Linked DNA regions of Homo sapiens: region 2 is linked to region 1. Evidence: fine-mapped expression QTL. A gene starts in region 1. The other region holds a variant in brackets. All regions are shown on one strand. Distances are between the middles of the regions.

Region 1 (2,998 bases):
TCAGCCTCCCAAATACCTGGGACCACAGGCATGCACCACCACGCCTGGCTAATTTTTTAAACTTTTTGTAGAAATAGGGTTGCCTTATGTTGCCCAGGCTGGTCTTGAACTCCCCAGCTCAAGTGATCCTCCCGCCTCGGCCTCGTGCTGGGTTTTTGAGCAGACCAGCCATTAAAGGGGAAGCTGGCTTACAGGACCAAGCTCTGATGGGCTGCTCCAGGCTCAGAGCTTCTTATGTCCTTCCAGCATTCCCTACGATGAAGGAGTCCCACTTAGAGTGAGTGACCCAGAAGAGAAGTGGACCCAGGATACTCCCTGGCCTGGGAAGATGCCTCTACAGCTTGAGACACAGGCACCAGTGGCTCAGGCCTGAGGACAGAGACCCAGGTAGGTATGCCAGCTGAGGCCTGCCCAGGAGGGAGGGTGGGAGACCCGCAGAGGGCCAAGGCAAGTCTCGGATTGGGGGCCTGTCTGGGGAGGGTGTTTGCACCCTGAACACCTCCCTGGAACCTAGAGGGTACTACTGGCCAGCCCTGAGATGGGCTCCCAGGGCTAGAACCCAGGCTAAGGCCTGGTCTCACCTCCCATGTGGACAGACCAAATGAAGACAGAGTGACCAGATCCCAGCTGGAAACACAGCAGAGGCAGGGGGACAGGGCTGCGGGAGCCAGGAGAGCAGCTGGAGGAGGTGTCCAGCCAGGGGAAGGAGGAGAGGAGAGCAAGAGGCAGAGGGAGCTGGTCACTAGATGGGGATCTGGGGACACAGGAGAAAGTGGCTTTGTTCTGCAGCAGGCAGGCCAGGCCAGACTGTCCCGAGGGACCAGAGGAGGAGCCAGCAGCAGTGGGGACAGAAAGGCCTCTGTGAGTGGGAAGCGCCCAGCTGGCTGGAGCCTACGATCCTCTTGGGGCCCTCCTGGTGGAAGAGAAGGGGGCCGCAGGGTCACCTGTGCTTGCGGCCAGGGAACTAGAGGGGAAAAGTGGGATCTTTGGAGGGGGTGCCCCCCCCCATTCTTACCCCACGAGGCTACCTGGAGACAGGTTTTTTTGTAGGGTGCCAGGCCCCGCCCCTTGGAGAGGTGGCCGGGGCAGCCAGCCACAGCTGGATCCGAGAAAGCGCCTGGCCGCGGCAGGAGGTTTGGTGGGGCTGGGGCGGGGCAGAAAGGAAGGTCTGCGAGGCCAGAGTGGAGCAGGAGCTGGGGGATCCGGTTCCGCCTGCCCAGGGCCTCCGCGCGCCTCCCAGGGCCACTCGGCAAGAAAAAAAAAAAAAAAATCAAACCTCCTCTCAGCCTATCAGAGAGCAGATGGGACGGGCTCGGCCAATGGCCGCGGCGCATGTTAATGAGGGCTGACGCCGCGAGGAGGGCCCCATTCAAAAGTAGTCGCTATTGTCGCCGTGGGCTGAGCTCGCCGGGCCGGCCCCTCCGTGGGGCCGCGCTGGGACGCACGCGGGTGGACGAGGGGACCGATCCCGGGCGCCCATGGCCGGGGCCGCCATGGCCGAGCGGGGCCGCGTGCCTCCCCCCGCACCCGCGCCCAGCACGGAGGGGCTGCCGCGCGCCTTCCTGCAGAGCCTGCGCACCCTGTTCGACATCCTGGACGACCGGCGGCGCGGCTGCGTGCACCTGCGCGAGATCGAGTCCCGCTGGCAGGGCACCGACGCGCGGGAGCTGCCCCGCGGGGTGCTGGAGGGCTTGCGCCAGGTGGCCCCGGCCAGCGGCTACCTGACCTTCGAGCGCTTCGTGGCCGGCCTGCGCACCTCCCTGCTGAGCGCCGACGGCGGCCCCCGGGACCCCACGCGCGCCCCGGCCCGGCCCGGGGATCAGCCGCCGCCGCCGCCGCAGCGCCTGGTGTTCGCTCCGGCCGACGAGCCGCGGACGGTCCTGGAGAGGAAGCCCCTGCCCCTGGGCGTGCGCGCCCCTCTGGCCGGTCCCAGCGCCGCCGCCCGCAGCCCGGAGCAGCTGTGCGCCCCGGCTGAGGCGGCGCCCTGCCCCGCGGAGCCCGAGCGGTCCCAGAGCGCGGCGCTGGAACCGAGCTCCAGCGCGGACGCAGGTGAGTTCCGGACGGCCCCCGGGCACCCTCGTAGCTCTCCCGGGCCCGGGCCAGAAACCGCAGTCCCACAGCTGCTGCCCGTGCATTTCCCACAAGGGACGGGACCGGGGAGCGGCTCTTCGTGGACTCCGGATCCTGGAGGGCGCCTCGGCGGGTCTGGAGGGAAAGGGCTTCATGCTTGTCGCGGTGAGCCCAGGGGCTTGCTTAGGGAGGCAAGCCAGACCCTCTCCTGCCACAGCATAAGGCCACCAGGGCCGGGGGGTGGCAGGTGACTCAGAAAACCCACCGGGAGCCCAACCTGTACCAAGCCTGAGCTTGGGCTCTCCATCTCCAATACCCTTTCCGCACCTGGGGACACCTGGGCCCTCAGCCTCCTGTCTGTGGCTGCTCAGGCAGAAGTGCTTCCTTCTCAAAGAAAGGGTCCCCCTTCTCAGTGTGACAGCTTAGCCAGGGGGGCTGGGCCCACTGACCCCACTGAGGCCTAGGCAGGCGGGGGCTGCTGCTGGTGGCCCAAGAGGACCTGGCCCTGTTGCCAAGATGGGCAGGGGCGTGGGTGGATCTCCTGCACCCCAGTGGGGCTGTACTATGGCAGATGCCATGGAGGGACATAGGCCGTAGTCCCTGGGGATGGCTGGCACACTCCTCTCCTGCCTTCCGGTCCAGTTGGCAGTGATGGGAGATTGCTGAATGGTCCCCTGTCTCCCCCAACCCAGTGCCTGCCTTGGGAACAGGACCTGTATTATGGCTGGGGTTGGGGGGCCAAGCTCCCAGAGGGGCCCCAGGCCCCACAGCCCATTCGGCCTGTGCACCCGTTCTGCCAGGGGAGGCCTGCCCACCGGTGGCTCCTGCCGGTCCCTGTGCTGCCTGCTGCTCTGCCACCCTCCCTGTACTGCTCCCCCACCTCAGCCATATTCTCCAGCCCTACAGCTGGTGTTTGGAGCCACGGCGG
Region 2 (2,593 bases), 23 kb after region 1:
GGTGCACTCCGCCAAGCTGCCAAGCACCATTTAGGGGCCGACGGGGGCAGCTGCCCCATCCCTCCCCCAACCCCTGTATCCCCACCCCGTACTCCCACCCCTCCCACAACCCCTGTACCTCCCACCCCTGTATCCCCACCCCTCCACCCACCCCTCTCCCAACCTCTCTCCCCGCCCCTGTATCCTGCATTCCTCCACCCACCCTCTATCCCCCACCGCTCCACCCCACCACTGTCTTCTCCATCCTTCCACCCCACCCTCAGCGTCTCTGCCCCTAAGGCAGCCCAGGAAATAGGAACTGAGACTCTGGTACCCACAGGAGCCTGGGTGGGCAAAGAGCGCTCAATCCAGCTCCTTGAACCCCTCCAGCCCGCTTCAGCCTGGGCATCACTGCAGGCCCCGTGCTCCTCCTCCTCCTCCTCAGGGCTGGGTCTCCAGAGAGTGGGGCCTTGGTCCTGAGAATCAGCCCTTAGAGGCTCCTTCTGTGTAGTCTGGGTCTGTACTGGGGAGGGTCACAGCCCACGGGCTGGCAGCCAGCCCAGCACCTACTTGTAAAAATTTTGTAATAAAAAGTTTTTCCTAGAGACGTGAAAGGAGAGTGTCTGTGGGGTGGGGCATCCTTGCTGTGGCCTGTGCCCCCACCTTCCCGCTGTTCTAGCCGCACGGGCCTGCCCTTGGTCCTGAGGGTGGACACCATCCCTCCCTACTGCCTTCTGCTCTGGAGCCAGGCCTGGGGCACTGGCTGCTGCCCTGGTGTGCCGTGGCAGCCTAGAGTAGCTGCAGGATGGCTGGCCCGAGGGAATGTTCCTGGGCCCTTGAGTCTTCTCTGGCCAGCAGAGTTCCCCAAAACCATCACATCCAGATCTGCGTTGGTGACCAAGGCCAGACTGAAGGTTGGGTCCTGGTACAGTGAGCCTGGGGGTGAGGGTAGAGGTCAGGGAGGTGGCGGAGAGTGGGTGGCAGCCAGCCAGGCGGCTTCCTAGGGGGCAGTCAGTGCTGGTAGAGACTGGCGGGAGGGCAGGCCCACATCAGGAGGTGGCACAGGGGTGGGAGATGAGATCAGGACCAGGACCCATAGGCAGGAATCTTGCACAGAACCTGGCTGTGGAGCTGAGCCATGCAATGGCACAGGGCACCTTGCCCTTCTCACCTGGGACTGAGTGTCCTGCACCTCCAAAAGGCATCCTGCAGCCCCAGCCAGGCCCTGCAGCCCCTCCCCAAGCCAGTTTTCTCCAGGATGGGAAGGCCTGGTCTTGCCCACTCGCCTCCTCACCTTCCTGGGAAGTGAGCTTAGACACTGTCTCTATGCTCAGTGCCCTGGCGAGGAGGGTGGTGGTTCTTATTCTGCTCTTCCCTCCCCTCTTCACCATTTTTTTTTAAAGTCATTTGATAAACCTGAGGGCAGCCAGCCCCAGCTTTGGAGTTCTGAGACTGGAAGGACCAAGGGGACACCCCGGGTTGGAGGTCTCACTCTTGTTCTCTGAATGACTAGTCAAAGGAGGTTTCTAGTGGGATGGGGTGGGCGTGCTCTTGGGAGGCAACAGGTGAGGTGCAAGGGGGGCATCAGAGATGCCCGTTGTCAGCTGGGCACAGTGGCTCACGCCTGTAATCCCAGC[A/T]CTTTGGGAGGCTGAGGCTGGCGTATCACCTGAGGTCAGGAGTTCAAGACCAGCTGAGGCAACATGGTGAAACCCCGTCTGTACTAAGAATACAAAAATTAGCCCAGCATGGTGGCACGCGCCTGTAATCCCAGCTACTCAGGAGGCAGAGGCACGAGAATCACTTGAACCCGAGAGGTGGAGGTTGCAGTGGGCCGAAATGGCACCACTGCACTCCAGGCTAGGCGACAGAGACGCTGTCTCAAAGAAAAAAAAAAAAAAAGATGCCCATTGTCCTGAGGGAGCTAAAGGGCTGTCACCTGGGGACCCTGAACACCTTGGACAGCTCCCAGCTCCGGTCCTCAGTGGCTCCGGATCACTCTTGCCCCCTGGTGGCCTCACTGAGCGCGGCCGCCGCGGCTCCAGCCAAAGCTGCAGTCGGGGCCGGGGCCGTTCTGTGTTCCTGTATTTGCTTTTCCCGCGAGTGGGGGTGCCCCTGCCTCTGTGGGCACACCTGTGCCTTCCTGTGCACCTGCCCAGCTCGTGAGCACCTGTCTGCGTGCGCCCGGCGCTCCTGTGTCTCTGTGCGCTCGCGAGGCTAGGCCCACACAGGTCCTCTGCCCCATCGCGGGTGCGGGTGAGGGGCTCGGAGTCCTACCGGGAAGAGGCCAGAAGGGAGCGCATCCTGGAGAAGCCCACCCGCGGCCCAAACCCAGCCGGACTTCTGGGAACCGCACCGGCCCCAGAGACCGCAGGTGCCGAGACACCCTGAGGCCGAGAGAGGTCCAGCGAGGCCCGGAGAGGGGACCAGAACTGGAGCAGGGGGAGGGGGCGCAGTCTGGAGCCGCCCTCCCGCCCCCTCAGGTGGAGCGCGCAGGCGCAGTCTCCGCGTGCGCGCCTCGCCGGCGCCTCCATCCCGGATCCTTGCTGCAGCGTCAGCGCCGCCGCCCGTGCCTTTCCTCTTCCTCCTCCTCCTCCTTGGCATCCGCCTCTTCTTC

Alleles and levels. Alleles are on the strand shown, and positions count from the first base shown. SD is a standard deviation of normalised expression in the study named.
For the expression in prefrontal cortex of the gene that starts at base 1,382 in region 1, allele T in region 2 goes with a lower level than allele A (moderate effect, 0.43 SD a copy in BrainSeq).

Evidence for each region. PIP is the estimated chance that this variant, and not a neighbour inherited with it, causes the effect.
Region 2: its variant is the best candidate, but not a certain one, in a credible set for the expression of SAPCD2 in prefrontal cortex (BrainSeq, PIP 0.73).

Annotation. Positions count from the first base shown.
Region 1 is chr9:137,068,941-137,071,938 of GRCh38, reverse strand. SAPCD2 (suppressor APC domain containing 2) reads left to right here and starts at 1,382. Exons shown (of 6, transcript NM_178448.4): 1 at 1,382-2,049. The coding sequence starts at 1,479. RefSeq lists an enhancer at 241-1,220 and silencers at 1,325-1,734, 1,905-1,954, 2,005-2,054.
Region 2 is chr9:137,046,098-137,048,690 of GRCh38, reverse strand. It overlaps NPDC1 (neural proliferation, differentiation and control 1), which reads left to right and starts at 2,514. Exons shown (of 9, transcript NM_015392.4): 1 at 2,514-2,593. ENTPD2 (ectonucleoside triphosphate diphosphohydrolase 2) reads left to right here. Exons shown (of 9, transcript NM_203468.3): 9 at 1-584. The coding sequence ends at 34. RefSeq lists enhancers at 1-47, 1,780-2,449. The variant A/T (reference allele first, on the strand shown) is at 1,617.